2 separate regions of the Homo sapiens genome follow, and region 1 is linked to region 2. The links come from fine-mapping of genetic effects on gene expression. Tissue or cell type: fibroblasts. Region 2 holds a variant in brackets; the other region holds the start of a gene. All regions are shown on one strand. Distances are between the middles of the regions.

Evidence for each region. PIP is the estimated chance that this variant, and not a neighbour inherited with it, causes the effect.
Region 1: it holds the start of UGGT2, and the variant in region 2 is fine-mapped to the expression of UGGT2 in fibroblasts (GTEx, PIP 0.93).

The regions. Positions count from the first base shown.
Region 1 is chr13:96,049,260-96,057,519 of GRCh38, forward strand. UGGT2 (UDP-glucose glycoprotein glucosyltransferase 2) reads right to left here and starts at 4,142. Exons shown (of 39, transcript NM_020121.4): 1 at 3,896-4,142. The coding sequence starts at 4,053. RefSeq lists an enhancer at 3,904-4,403.
Region 2 is chr13:95,924,762-95,933,074 of GRCh38, forward strand. It overlaps UGGT2 (UDP-glucose glycoprotein glucosyltransferase 2), which reads right to left. Exons shown (of 39, transcript NM_020121.4): 18 at 2,452-2,575; 19 at 2,267-2,365; 20 at 919-1,013. Among named protein-coding and RNA genes, the nearest start is that of UGGT2, 120 kb to the right of the region's middle. The variant G/A (reference allele first, on the strand shown) is at 3,840.

The sequences.
Region 1 (8,260 bases), 120 kb after region 2:
GGCCTTTGACAAAATTCAACAGCCCTTCATGCTAAAAACTCTCAAATTAGGTATTGATGGGACATATCTCAAAATAATAAGAGCTATTTATGACAAATCTGCAGCCAATATCATACTGAATGGGCAAAATCTGGAAGCATTCCCTTTGAAAACTGGCACAAGACAAGGATGCCCTCTCTCACCACTCCTATTCAACACAGTGTTGGAAGTTCTGGCCAGGGCAATCAGGCAGGAGAAAGAAATAAAGGGTATTCAATTAGGAAAAGAGGAAGTCAAATTGTCCCTGTTGGCAGATGATATGATTGTATATTTAGAAAACCCCATCATCTCAGCCCAAAATCTCCTTAAGCTGATAAGCAACTTCAGCAAAGTCTCAGGATACAAAATCAATGTACAAAAATCACAAGCATTGCTCTATGCCAATAACAGACAAACAGAGGGCCAAATCATGAGTGAACTCCCATTCACAATTGCTTCAAAGAGAATAAAATACCTAGGAATCCAACTTACAAGGGATGTGAAGGACCTCTTCAAAGAGAACTACAAACCACTGCTCAAAAAAATAAAAGAGGACACAAACAAATGGAAGAATATTCCATGCTCATGGATAGGAAGAATCAGTATCGTGAAAACGGCCATACTGCCCAAGGTAATTTATAGATTCAATGCCATCCCCATCAAGCTACCAATGACTTTCTTCACAAAATTGGAAAAAACTACTTTAAAGTTCATATGGATACAAAAGAGAGCTCGCATTGCCAAGACAATCCTAAGCAAAAAGAACAAAGCTGGAGGCATCACGCTACCTGACTTCAAACTATACTATAAGGCTACAGTAACCAAAACACCATGGTACTGGTGCCAAAATAGAGATATAGACCAATGGAACAGAGCAGAGCCCTCAGAAATAATACCACACATCTACAACCATCTGATCTTTGACAAATCTGACAAAAACAAGAAATGGGGAAAGGATTCCCTATTTAATAAATGGTGCTGGAAAAACTGGCTAGCCATATGTAGAAAGCTGAAACTGGATCCCTTCCTTACACCTTATACAAAAATTAATTCAAGATGGACTAAAGACTTAAATGTTAGATCTAAAACCATAAAAACTCTAGAAGAAAACCTAGGCAATACCATTCAGGACATAGGCATGGGCAAGGACTTCATGTCTAAAACACCAAAAGCAATGGCAACAAAAGCCAAAACTGACAAATGGGATCTAATTAAAGTAAAGAGCATCTGCACAGCAAAAGAAACTACCATCAGAGTGAACAGGCAACCTACAGAATGGGAGAAAATTTTTGCAATCTACCCATCTGACCAAGGGCTAATATCCAGAATCTACAAAGAACTTAAACAAATTTACAAGAAAAAAATTAAACGACCCCATCAAAAAGTGGGTGAAGGATATGAACAGACACTTCTCAAAAGAAGACATTTATGCAACCAACAGACACATGAAAAAATTCTCATCATCACTGGCCATCAGAGAAATGCAAATCAAAACCACAATGAGATACCATCTCACACCAGTTAGAAGGGCGATCATTAAAAAGTCAGGAAACAACAGGTGCTGGAGAGGATGTGGAGAAATAGGGACACTTTTACACTGTTGGTGGGACTGTAAACTAGTTCAACCATTGTGGAAGACATTGTGGCGATTCCTCAAGGATGTAGGACTAGAAATACCATTTGACCCAGCCATCCCATTACTGGGTATATACCCAAAGGATTATAAATCATGCTGCTATAAAGACACATGCACACACATGTTTATTGCGGCACTATTCACAATAGCAAAGACTTGGAACCAACCCAAATGTCCGTCAATGATAGACTGGATTAAGAAAATGTGGCACATATACACCACGGAATACTATGCAGCCATAAAAAAGGATGAGTTCATGTCCTTTGTAGGGACATGCATGCAGCTGGAAACCATCATTCTCAGCAAACTATCACAAGGATAGAAAACCAAACACCTCATGTTCTCACTCATAGGTGGGAACTGAACAATGAGAATACTTGGACACACAATGGGGAACATCACACACCAGGGCCTGTTGTGGGGTTGGGGGAGCGGGGGATAGCATTAGGAGATACACCTAATGTAAATGATGAGTTAATGGGTGCAGCACACCAACATGGCACATGTATATCTATGTACCTGCACGTTGTGCACATGTACCCTAGAACTTAAAGTATAATAATAAAAAAAATAGCTGGGACTTAATTAAACTAAACAGCTTTTGCACGGCAAAAGGAATAGTCAGCAGAGTAAACAGACAACCCACAAAACGGGAGAAAATCTTCACAATCTATACATCTGAAAAAGGATTAATATCCAGAATCTACAAGGAACTCAAATCAGCAGGAAAAAAAAAACAGTCCCATCAAAAAGTGGGCTAAGGACATGAATAGACAATTCTCAAAAGATATATAAATGGCTAACATGAAAAAATGCTCAACATACTAATGATCAGGGAAACACAAATCAAAACCACAATGCGATACCACCTTACTCCTGCAAGAATGGCCATAATAAAAAAATAAAAATAAATAATAGATGTTGGCGTGGATGCAGCGAACAGGGAACACTTCTACACTGCTGGTGGGAATGTAAACTAGTATAACCACTATGGAAAACAGTGTGGGGAGTCCTCAAAGTACTAAGAGTAGATCTACCATTTGATCCAGCAATCCCACTACTAGGTATCTACCCAGAGGAAAAGAAGTCATGAAAAAGATAGTTGCACAAGTATGTTTATAGCAGCACAATTCACAAGTGCAAAAATGTGGAACCAATCCAAATACCCATCAATCAACGAGTGGATAAACTGTGGCATATATATGATGGAACACTACTCAGCCATAAAAAGGAATCAATTAATGGCATTCACAGCAACCTGGATGAGATTAGAGACTATTATTCTAAGTGAAGTAAGTCAGAAATGGAAAACCAAATATAGTATGTTCTCACTGATATGTGGGAACTAAGCTATGAGGATGCAAAGGCATAAGATTGACACAATGGACTTCGGGGACTCGGGGGAAAGGTTGAGAAGGGAGTGAGGGATAAAAGACTACAAATTGGGTGCAGTGTATATACTGATGGGGTGATGGGTGTACCAAAATCTCAGAAATCACCACTAAAGAACTTACTCATGTAACCAAACACCACCTGTTCCCCAATAAACTATAGAAATGAAAAAAAAAAAGAACTTTTAGCATCAAATACATGAACTTATGTGGAGTCATGGAGTCTCTTTTTAGGGACACACACTGTTGCTGTGGTGAACAGCCATTAAGTCATTGGTGTAAAACTTCATTTTTGCTAAGAGAAAGAACTTTCTAATTTTACTCAACTAGAATACTAAAGGGCAAAATGCAATAGCTACAAGTTTTGTTCTGCAGAGTAAATGACAGGTCATGAACTAATTCCGTTGGAAGAGATACAGGAAAAATATTACCTTGCAGGAAGCTGCCCTCCCCATAGTAAGCCTAGGAGCTGATGGTATGATGTCATCATTACGAAACTAGGTACTTTAAGCACTGTCTGAACAGAACTGCCTACCCCAGTAGAAGCTCTTGCGTTAAGTGCCACGCGTAAATGCTAATACATCCCAACGTATTAAAGCAGGGCAGGGAAGCTTTAAAAATCGTAGGTAAAGTAAGACTGAGGGGGAAAGGAACTGCAAGTGAGTGCTGCACGGGAACCGAGAAGCCGCCCCGGGTCGGGAAGGAAGGAGGTGGTGATGCTCAGGGCCAGAGCGGGGGCGTCTGGAGAACCCGGGTGGGAGCCAGACACCCGCTGCGAGCACGAAGAAAGCGCGGCTGAGGGTGGCAGCGCGCCCACACCCGCCCGGACGAGGGCCCGGCCCGCACCCACCTTGCCTCCAGCAGCAGCGGGGTCTCGGGCCACTTCGCGGCCAAGTGGGCAGTCACCGACTTGGACGCGGCGACCGTCCCGGAGCCGAGCTGCGAAAGCCACAGCGCTGTGGAGCCTAGTAGCAGCCGCACCACGTTCGTGGCTTTCGCTGGCGCCATGGCACGGAGAGAAAAGCGCGAGTCCCTCGGACCCGGTACCCACAGTCTGTGGCCGCCACGCTTCGGCCGGCTCTTCCCGCTGCGCGGCTGCCCACTTCCGGTGGGAGGAGCTCGAGTCCGTTACTGGGTGCCGGGTCCAGACCGGCGCATGCGTGTCCCGCTCCGGCGCGGTTTAGTGGGTGCGGCCTGGAGAGCCCACGCCAGCCGGACACTGGGCCACGTCGGAGCCGCCGGGGCGGCGCCGGGTTGCTGAGCGGCGTCACAGATGCTCCCGCGGGTCCGCTCCCGCGGGTCCATTCCCAGGACTTTGGGTTCTCGGACAGAGGCCTTAGGACACGGGGCGGGAAGCTGGCTCTCCAGACCGAACTAGGGCTCTGGAGTTGCCAAAATCTGGAAGCAAAGTCAGGACCACTTGCATATTGTCCACCTTTTACATAGGAGGAAAATAAGTCCAGTTAAAGTTGAAGTCCCCACCTCACGCAGTTCTCAAGTGTTACTACAGGTTGGAATCACCTGGGAGAGCTTTTATAAGGCCGCCGCCAAGGCCACGCCCCGTACCTGAGAATCTCGGGAGGGGGGGTGAGATGCGGCATCAGTAGTATTAGTTAAAATCCGCAGGCCGGGCGCGGTGGCTCACGCCTGTAATCCCAGCACTTTGGGAGGCCGAGGCGGGCGGATCACGAGGTCAGGAGATCGAGACCATCCTGGCTAAAACGGTGAAACCCCGTCTCTACTAAAAATACAAAAAATTAGCCGGGCGTAGTGGCGGGCGCCTGTAGTCCCAGCTACTTGGGAGGCTGAGGCAGGAGAATGGCGTGAACCCAGGAGGCGGAGCTTGCAGTGAGCCGAGATCCCGCCACTGCACTCCAGCCTGGGCAACAGAGCGAGACTCCGTCTCAAAAAAAAAAAAAAAAAAAAAATCCGCAGGTGATTCCAGTGTCCAATCATGTTAGGAAACCCGTGACTTACGGGTGGCTCTCAAACTTTAACCACTTGCTTGTTAAAACACTGCAGAGTGGTGGGCCTCCCCACAGTGTTTCGGATTCAGTAGAGCCCTTGCGGGGGCCGAGAACTTGCATTTTATTTCTCCCAAGTTCGCAGATAATACTAGTGGCTAGAAATCACACTGGAGCCTTTTCCATTGGAAGGTGTGGTCCAGGGTAGGCTTCAGCTGTGAGCTCAATGGAAATGCAGAAGCTCAGGCCCCGCCCCAGACCTAATGAATCAAGATCTCCAATTTAACGGGAACCACAGGTGATTCCTATGCACAGGAAAGGTGGAGAAGAGTGATTTAGAGGATTACATTTAAAAGTGCACAGAAAAGTGCCAATAAGCCTGAGCATGGTGGCTCACGCCTGTAGTCCCAGCACTTTGGAAGGTCGAGGCGGGAAGGTAGCTTAAGCCGAGGAGGTAGAGGCTGCAGAAAACGGTGATTGCGCCACTGCCCTCCAACCTGGGCGAAAGAGGGAGACCGTGTCTCAAAAAAACAAACAAACAAAAGGCCAATACGTGATAGTTGTTTTGTCAGAGTAAAATATATGGTAAAAGAGTTTAGCGGATGCACGGATTCATTGCTTTTTTTCTCTCCTGTTACTCCTTTGCCCTGCAGGGAAGCTGGATCTCTTGAAGTTGCGGAAACATAGTCATTCCCTTTTTTCGTTTCATTTGCTTAGTCAGTACCCTTCCTTAGAAAACCCTATTCCGCTAAGCAGTTCCACGAATTTCCAGAATAATTTCTCACTTCCAAAGTTTAGCCTTCATTTCCTGATTTATCCTACTTGGTATGATCTATCCTTACTTTAAATTTCCTCTTTATTGTAACTGCCATATAGCACTTAAGTTCTCACTTTAATACTTGAGTACGCTACTTACTTATTTCTCCTGTGAGAGATAGTATATTCCCCCAGAACTCATGCCTTGTTCATCTTTGGCATCCCGTGCAGTACCTAGCACAATACTTCACATTCACATGTTATTTGGGGACTCCATGAAGATTGAAGAACCCTTGCTTTATGGAAAGAATGTAGAAAGCTAAGGCAAATGCACTTCATTTCTATCCATAGTGTATACGAGAAAAATACATTACGAATCTTTCACAATTATTTGCTTTAATTAACTCCCCATTTCCACTCATATTTAGACCGAAATTTTTATTGAGATTGTGGGATTAAGGAAATAAAATATTGACAGTGAATGTCTTACATGTCAGCATATCCAATGGACTGCAAATCTTTAAGAAATAATTGGCCATATAAAAGGCACATTAAATAGACTATTAAAGGACACTAATAAAATGTATATTAGTAAAAATTTCACTATATGTGAGTTCAGAATAGTGAGAATGCTCATTTCTCTTTTAAAGAGAATAAAATTAATCTAATCTAGGCCATCTATGAATATATTTGTTATACATTTTATCTTACATGGTGTTCTCCTAGAAATTTTAATTTGAAACATTCCTCAGAATGATGATCCCCAAGCTTGTTTCCCCATCTACAGAGCAAAAGGATAAGACAATGTGATATTTAAGATTCCTTCTATATGTGATTCCTATGTGCAGATAAAAAAATACTAAAATGCAAAAATTGAGTAAATTAGCAAAGTCCACTCCAGTCAGTGGAGTAGCAAAGTATTTTAAAATCCACTATCAATAACCCTTTGGCACAGATTGGCTTTGAACTACGGACCTAACTCTACCTAAGTCTTTTTAGCAAAATACAATACAAAAGTTATTCACTGCAGGATAAAAGGAATAAAATTGATGAAGGTAGCAGTTTCTATCATATGTGGAAGAAGTGATTAATGAGTGCTTTATAATAAGAATCTTGTGTTTAACAGAATAAATCATCTTGAATTTAATGATATGTATTTAATGATAATAATGGCATGACATGAGTACAAAGTTACTGCCAAATTATTGCATTATATAATAAAATTTTAATTTTCTAAGCCTACATAAAATCCAGTGGGTGAACTCACTTTTAAAAGTATTATTCTGTAGGTTTTCCAGATTTCCCTTATAAGAAAGACCCTATTCTCCTATTCTCGTTTTATTATTAAAAGATCTTTTGTCCTGGCGTGGTGGCTCATGCTTGTAATCCCAGCACTTTGGGAGGCCGAGGCAGGTGGATCGCGTGTGGTCAGGAGTTTGAGACCAGCCTGGCCAACATTGTGAAACCTCATCTCTACTAAAAACACGAAAATTAGCGGGGTGTGATGACAGGTGCCTGTAGTCTCAGCTACTCAGGAGGCTGAGGCAGGAGAATCACTTGAGCCCAGGATGCAGAGGTCGCAGTGAGCCGAGATTGCACCACTGCACTCCAGCCTGGGCAACAGATGGGACTCCATCTCAAAAATAAATAAATTAAATTAAAGATCTTTTTCTTTTTCTTTTCCTTTTTTTCTTTTTTGATATAGATTCTCTCTCTGTCACCCAGGGTGGAGTTGTTTTTTTTGTTTTTTTGTTTTTTTGTTTTTTTTTTTTTGATATAGAGTCTCTGTCGCCCAGGTTGGAGTGCAGTGGTTCTCTTGAGTAGCTGGGACCACAGGCACATGCCGCCATGCCTGGCTAATTTTTTGTATTTTCTGTAGATGTGGAGTTTCACCATGTTGCTCAGGTTGGTCTTGAACACCTGGGCTCAAACGATCTGTGCACCCCTGCCTTTCAAAGCGTCGGGATTACAGACATGAGCCACCGTGCCTGGATATTATTTAAATATCTTAAATACACAAAAGTTTTCTACTCATTCCAGTTGGGAAAAATTTAGAGACTTATGTAATTTGTTACATCACTATTCCCTAGACAAGATTATACCAAAATCATAATCAAACGAGTATGGTTTAGGTTTTTTATGTTTAGTTTTAAGCTTAACTCTTTATAGCTTTTTTTAAAATTTAAGGGTCTGCAAGTTTGATATTTACAGGTTTACATATTTTATTTAAGATAGATAATAAATGCCTCACAAATGTCTAATCCCAGTATGTTTGATGAATTTTTTTAGTGGAGCTTTTTACTACAGTGGCTTTCAAATAGCAAATAAAGGATGTGAAATATATAATTTTTAAATTAATCATTTTGGATGATGTAAGAACTTGAGATTTGCTATTTAACAACAACCATCTATACTTATATGGTTAAATCGAAGTATTTTTAATGGTGGTAAAATACACATAAAATTTACCATTTTAACCATTTTTAAGTGTACAG
Region 2 (8,313 bases):
GGTCTATGTGGCAATGGAATGAAGCACTCTGCTAAAAGCCAGTGAAACACTGAGGACTCCTGCAGTGGCATGTAAGTGAGTCATCTTAGAAGCTTGTCCTCCTGCTCCAGTGAAGCCTTCGGATCACTGCAACTATAACCAAAATCTTAAATATAGCCTTATAAGAGAATCTAAGATAGAATCACTCAGGTAAATTGCTCCTAAATTCTTGAACCTCAGAAACTGTTAAGATAAATGTTCACTGTTTACCACCAAGTGGTAATTTGTTATACAGCAATAAATTTATACTTAGCTAATATAAAAACAATTTCATAAAATATTTTGGTTTATGTTTCTTAAGTATTTTTTATCTAGATAAACTTATATATTAACTTAGAAATACAGACAGTTATGAAAGACTACTTTTATATACAGAAATATATCCTCTTGAAGTATACTGGTTTATAATCAATAACAAGAAATTTAATGTTGACTTAAGGCTTAAAATATTCTTCAGTGAGATAAATTTACTTAGTTTTTCTTAAATAATCAGGGAAAGAAAATGCTGCTTAATTATGTGACCAAAAATTGCTATTACTAGCTATTGTTGGTAAATAGTGGATTTCGGGTCACTGAAGTGGTGGTAGGGTCTAGAGTTACTTACTTTGTTTAATACCCTATTTGTAATCAATATGTGGTATGTGTATGTCTGATCACAAGGACTACCAGAGAATATATGTCACGAGTCATAGAAAACAGGTAGGTTTTTCTTTTCCTGAGCAAAGTTACCTGTTTTACATGAAGACTAAATCTGAATTCCTTCGTCTACTTAACTGAAACATTAACATGGAGGGGAAAATATTTAATGTATGTTCTTCATATTGCTTTCCTTAAATTGAAATAAATTAAAATTGTTAGTAAGAATATCTAGGTACTCACCATGTGCTTTAATGCATTAAAAAGAAGTTTTCTCCCAGAAGGCTTATCAAAATCTGCAATAATCCAGAGAGTGACTGCAGAAATTATACTCTCATCTGAAAGTTTCAAACAGTTTACTCAAATTAACTTTTTTTTTAAAAAATAAAACAAAAGCAGGGGAACATGTGCAGTTAACACATTAAAAAAAATTAAAATAATATTTCTGAAAAGCAAAGATTTTTAAAATGTTATGTGTGAATGTATACATGCAAGTACGTATATATACATACAAAAATAAATACATATAAAATTACATATAAAAATGCTACAAGGGTAATTCATTATACAAGCTTATATAAAGCTTCCGGTTAGAAGAGTAACTCATTATATAAGCTTATATAAAACTCCCAGTGTTGGTAAGCAAATCTGCCTTCTAGCTACATTTGTTTAAAAAAAAAAAATTTATGTCCCAAATATATGTAAAACCGTAACAATCAAGCTTATTAGTAGATATAGAAAACAGCAATATGTAGCCAGACTCCTTTATGAACATAAAATCATGGAATCTGTTAGACAGTAATCCAGGAGCCATCTGGTAGAAACTCGGATTTAATCTACAGCATTTACAAGAACTGGTTGTGTGGCCTTTGCTTTAAATCTCTCTCCTATATAAAAGTTTGCCCCTTACAACATAGTTCATTCCATCTGTTTAATGAACTCTCACTGTTAGAAAATTACCACTTCCCTACTGAGACCAAAATCAGCCTTCTTTAATCTTTTACTCATTGGCTCTTGTTTTTATTTCTAGAGCAAAGCAGGCCAAACAAAACAAAGCAAAGCAAAACAAAAACCACCAAATTCGAATTATATTCATCTATCTGAATAGTTAATTGTACCCTAACAAATCTACGGTCCCACTGCAGACTTCTCAGTTTGGCTAAATCCTTTTTCCCAAGTGTGTTACTATCTTGGTCTCCTCTCTTCTGGTTGTAACCCCTACCTTAAGCAAAATATCTGCATGTTATTTAATCAGAATGCAGAAGAATTATTATCTTCTCTGATCTGGTAATTGTACTTTTCTGTATACATTATAAGATAGTTTACATAGTACTGAAAAGATTTTATTCTTTTCTTAAAAAGGTGAAAATAGTTTGTTTAAAAAAGGCAAAAATAAGATAAACAAAGTTAGAATAGAAGGCATTGTTTTCTCAGCACACGTTAAATACTAAAAAATTTACAAACTCTAAAATTGAAATCTAGGCCTCTACTCAAAAATAGCAACATATTAAAATTTATTATACAACTGCCTTATGAACATTACAAGTTTCTATCACTTTAAGAATTCAGGTAAATAAAATATGCTTATTACCGTCTTGGGTTAAATAATACATGTTCTTTGCAATTACAGCACTCTTATCTTGTGAATCCAAGAAAAAGAAAGTAGAGAAATCTTCAACATCAGCAGTTACTGAAAAATTTCAAATTAAACGTTAAATATAAATAAAGAATTCACAACTCAATAAACATTTGTAGAACAGTATAGGATTATTTTACCTGATGTAGATATTAAATTGAGGTACTGCTGGTTAGTACGCAAAATCAAAGTATTTATACGGGGTACAACATTATTCCTATCCATTAGAAAATCAATTGCATTCGTGCGATCATTTAATGTGCCCTAAAAAAACAAAAATGTTATTTAGATAATACAGGCAATTTATATCCATGTTTCAAAAAGTATGCAGATAACACAAAGATTACTTAATCAAAAATAAATAAGCAATTTAGAATTATTACAATACATTTTCTTTCTTTTTTTTTTTTTTTTTTATTCTTCAGTTTGGTAAACATTTAATGAGCTCTGTCTCAGGTGTTGGCAATTTCACTTCACAACCAGAATCATGGTAGTAACCATTTCTTGAGCACCTATTGTGAGCAGGACAATTCTCATTAATTAACTCACTGAATTTTTTTGTTTGTTTGTTTGTTTGCTTTTTTGTTGTTTTTTTAAATTTTTTTAGTATTTATTGATCATTCTTGGGTGTTTCTCGGAGAGGGGGATTTGGCGGGGTCACAGGACAATAGTGGAGGGAAGGTCAGCAGATAAACTTGTGAACAAAGGTCTCTGGTTTTCCTAGGCAGAGGGCCCTGCCGCCTTCCGCAGTGTTTGTGTCCCTGGGTACTTGAGATTCGGGAGTGGTGATGACTCTTAACGAACATGCTGCCTTGCAGGGTCTGTTTAACAAAGCACATCTTGCACCGCCCTTAATCCATTTAACCCTTAGTGGACACAGCACATGTTTCAGAGAGCACGGGGTTGGGGGTAAGGTTATAGATTAACAGCATCCCAAGGCAGAAGAATTTTTCTTAGTACAGAACAAAATGGAGTCTCCTATGCCCACTTCTTTCTACACAGACACAGTAACAATCTGATCTCTCTTTCTTTTCCCCACATTTCCCCCTTTTCTATTCGACAAAACCGCCATCGTCATCATGGCCCGTTCTCAATGAGCTGTTGGGTACACCTCCCAGACGGGGTGGCGGCCGGGCAGAGGCGCCCCCCACCTCCCGGACGGGGCAGCTGGCCGGGCAGGGGCTGCCCCCTACCTCCTGGACGGGGCGGCTGGCCGGGCAGGGGCTGCCCCCCACCTCCCCGACGGGACGGCTGGCCTGGCGAGGGCTGCCCCCCACCTCCCGGACAGGACGGCTGCCGGGCGGAGACGCTCCTCACTTCCCGGACGGGGCGGCTGCCGGGCGGAGGGGCTCCTCACTTCCCAGATGGGGCGGCTGCTGGGCGGAGGGGCTCCTCACTTCTCAGACGGGGCAGCCGGTCAGAGACGCTCCTCACCTCTCAGACGGGGTGGTGGCGGGGCAGAGACACTCCTCAGTTCCCAGACGGGGTCGCGGCGGGGCAGAGGTGCTCTTCACAGCCCAGACGGGGC[G/A]GCGGGGCAAAGGCGCTCCCCACATCCCAGAAGGTGGGTAGCCGGGCAGAGACGCTCCTCACTTCCTAGACGGGATGACGGCCGGGAAGAGGTGTTCCTCACTTCCCAGACTGGGCGGCTGGGCAGAGGGGCTCCTCACATCCCAGATGATGTGCGGCCAGGCAGAGATGCTCCTCACTTCCTAGACGGGGTGGCGGCCGGGCAGAGGCTGCAATCTCGGCACTTTGGGAGGGCAAGGCAGGCGGCTGGGAGGTGGAGGTTGTAGTGAGCCGAGATCATGCCACTGCACTCCAGCCTGGGCAACATTGAGCACTAAGTGAGCGAGACTCCATCTGCAATCCCGGCACCTCGGGAGGCCGGGGCTGGCAGATCACTCGAGGTCAGGAGCTGGAGACCAGCCCGGCCAACACAGCGAAACCCCGTCTCCACCAAAAAATACGAAAACCAGTCAGGCGTGGCGGCGCGCGCCTGCAATCCCAGGCACTAGGCAGGCTGAGGCAGGAGAATCAGGCAGGGAGGTTGCAGTGAGCCAAGATGGAGGCAGTACAGTCCAGCCTCGGCTTGGCATCAGAGGGAGATGAGGGAGAGGGGGAGGGAGAATACATTTCCTTGTAAAAATTACAACTTTTTCCAATTAAGCAATTTTAGATGCAATTATGCCTAAGATAAATTTAATTAAATATATTTTTAAAGAATTTCAGCTTTTATTTTAGATTCGAGGGTACACATGCAGATTGGTTACAACACAGGTGTATCATGTAATGCTGAAGTTGGGGTTATGACTGATCCCATTACCCAGGTAGTTAGCATAGTACCAGATAGTTTTCCAACCCTTCCCTGACTTTTTCCTTCCCTCTCCCCTCTAGAAATCCCCAGTGTCTCTTGCTGCCATCTTTATGTCTATGAGTACCAAATGTTTAGCTCCCACTCATAAGAGAGAACATGCAGTGTTTGGTTTCCTGTTTCTGTGTTAGTTTGCTTGGCCTCCAGCTGAGTCCATGTTGCTCCAAAGGGGACGATTTCATTTTTAATGGGTGCGTAGTATTCCATGGTGTATATATGCACCACATTTTCTTTAACCAATCCACCACTGATGGACACCTAGGCTGATTCTACATCTTTGCTATTATGAATAGTGCTGCAGTGAACATACATGTGTCTTTTTGGTAGAACGATTTATTTTCCTCTGGAGATGTACCCAGTAATGGGATTGCTGGGTTGAATGGTAGTTCTGTTTTAAGTTCTTTGAAACATCTACAAACTGCTTTCCAAAGGGGCTGAACTAATTTACATCCCCACTAACAGTGTATATGCGTTCCCCTTCCTCCTCAGCCTCACCAGCATCTGTTGTTTGTTCACTTAATAACAGCCATTCTAAATGGTACGAGATGGTGTCTCCTTTTGGTTTTGATTTGCACTTCTCTAAGGATTAGTAGTGTTGAACATTTCTTTATATGCTTGTTGGCCGCCTGCGTGTCTTCTTTTGAGAAGTACCTGTTAATGTCATTTGCCTACTTTTTAATGGGGTTATTTATTCTTTGCTTGATTTATTTGCTACTTATGGATATTAGAATTTTGTCGGATATACAGTTTGTGAATATTTTCTGTATATTCTGTAGGCTGTCTGTTTACTCTGTTGCGAGTTTCTTTTGTTGTACTCTTTAATTAATTAGGTCCCACTCGTCAAATTTTTGTTTTTGATGCAATTGCTTTTGAGATCTTAGCCATAAATTCTTTCCCAAGACTGATGTCCAGAACGGTGTTTCCTAGGTTTTCTTCTAGAATTCTTATAGTTTTAAGTCTTATACTTAACTGTTTAATCCATCTTGTTAAGTTTTGAACGTGGTGAAAAGTAGGGGTCCAGTTTTGTTTGCATATGGCTAGCCAACTATCCTAGGACCATTTATTGAATCGAGGACCCTTTTCCCACTAATTTTCATCAACTTTTCAAAGCTAAAATGTTTGTAGGTGTGTGGCTTTATTTCTGGGTTCTCTACTCTGTTCCATTAGTCTATGTGTCTATTTTTGTACCAGTACCATGCTGCTCTGGTTACTGTAGCCTCATAGTGTACTGTGAAGTTGGGTAATACTGTGTCCGGAATTGGTGGGTTCTTGATCACACTGACTTCAAGAATAAAGCTGTGGACCCTCGCGGTGAGTGTTACAGTTCTTAAAGATGGAGTGTCCAGAGTTTGTTCCTTCTGATGTTCAGATGTGTTCGGGGTTTTCTCCTTCTGGTGGGTTGGTGGTCTCGCTGGCTTCAGGAGTGAAGGTGCAGACTTTTATGGTGAGTGTTACAGCTCTCAAAGGCAGCACGGACCCAAAGACTGAGCAGCAGAAAGATTTACTGCAAAGAGCAAAAGAACAAACCTCCCACAGCATGGAAAGGGACCCAAGCGGGTTGCCACGGCTGGCTTGGGCAGCCTGCTTTTATTCCCTTATCTGGCCCCACCCACATCTTGCTGATTGGTCCATTCTACAGAGAGCTGATTGGTCTGTTTTACAGAGAGCTGATTGGTCCGTTTTGACAGGGTGCTGATTGGTGTGTTTACAATCCCTGAGCTAGCCACAAAAGTTCTCCAAGTCCCCACTAGATGAGCTAGACACAGCACTGATTGGTGCATTTACAAACCTCCAGCTAGACACAGGGTACTGATTGGTGTGTTTACAAATCTTGAGCTAGACACAGAGTGCTGATTGGTGTATTCACAATCCCTCAGCTACACATAAAGGTTCTCCAAGTCCCCACTAGACTCTGGAGCCCAGGGGCTTCACCTAGTGGATCCCACACCTGGGCCGCAGGGGGAGCTGCCCGCCACTCCCGCACCTTGCACCGGCACTCCTCAGCCCTTGAGCGGTCAATGGGACTGGGCGCCGCGGAGCAGGGGGCAGCACTCGTCGGGGAGGCTCGGGCTGCGCAAGACCCCACGGTGCCGGGGCAGGGTGGGGTGGGGTGGGGGTGGGGGGGAGGCTCAGGCATGGCGGGCTGCGGGTCCCAAGCCCTGACCCAGGGGGAGGCAGATGAGGCAGCGAGAATTCGAGCACAGTGCTGGCCCAGCGCACCCTCTGTAGCTGCTGGCCCGGGTGCTACGCCCCTCACTGCCCGGGCCGGCAGCGCCCGCCGGCCTGAGTGCAGGGCCTGCTGAGCCCACGCCCACCCGGAACTCGCGCTGGCCCATGAACGTGGCGCGGAGCCCTGGTTCCCGCCCGCGCCTCTCCCTCCACACCTCCCCGCAAGCAGAGGGAGCCGGCTCCGGCCTCGGACAGCCCAGAGAGGGGCCCCCACAGTGCAGTGGCAGGCTGAAGGGCTCCTCGAGCATGGCCAGAGCGGACGCCGAGGGCAAGGAGGTGCTGAGAGTGAGCAAGGGCCACCAGCACATTGTCACCTCTCAATATGATGCCTTCAGATTTGTTCTTTTTCTTGGAATTGCCTTGGCTATTTGGGCTCTTTTCTGGTTCCATATTAATTTTAGAATAGTATTTTCCAATTCTGTGAATAATGACATTGGCAGTTTGATATGAATAGCATTAAATCTGTAGATTGTGTTGGGCAGTATGGCCATGTTAACAATATTTAGTCTTCCAATCCGTGAGCATGGAATGTTTACCCATTTGTTTGCATAATATATGATCACTTTCAGCAGTGTTTAGTAATTATCCTTGTAGAGATCTTTCATCTCCTTAGTTAGCTGTATTCCTAGGTATTTTATTTGTGTGTGTGTGTGTGTGTGTGTGTGTGTGTGTGTGTGTGTATGGCTATTGTAAATGGGACTGCATTCTTGATTTGGCTCTCAGCTTGAATGTTATTGGTCTATAGAAATGCTACTGATTGCTGTGCATTAATTTTGAATCCTGAAACTTTACTTAAGTAATTTATCAGTTCTAGGAGTTGTCCGGTGGAGTCTTTAGGGTTTTCTAGGTGTAGAATCATATCATCAGTGAAGAGAGATACTGGACTTCTTTTACTATTTGGATGCCTTTTATTTATTGCTCTTGCCTGATTGCTCTAAGACTTCCAGTACTATGATGAATAGGAATAGTGAGACTGGGCATCCTTTTCCTGTTCCAGTCCTCAAGGGGAATGTTTCCAGCTTTTCACTGTTCAGTATGATGTTGGTTGTGGGTTTGTCATAGATGGCGTTTATTATTTTGAGGTATGTTCCTTCAATGCAGTTTGTTGAGGGTTTTTATCATGAAGGGATGTTTGATTTTATTGAATAATTTTTCAGCATCTATCAAAATGATCACATTTTTTGTTTTAAATTCTGTGTATGTGGTGAATGACATTTACTGATTTGTTAATGTTGAACCAACCTTTCTCAGGAGTGAAGCCTATTTGATTACGGTGAATTAATTTTTTGATATGCTGCTGGATTCAGTTTGCTAGTATTTTGTTGAGGATTTTTCCATCTATGTTCATCAATGGTACTAGCCTGTAGTTTTTTCATTGCATGTTTGCCAGGTTTTGGTATCA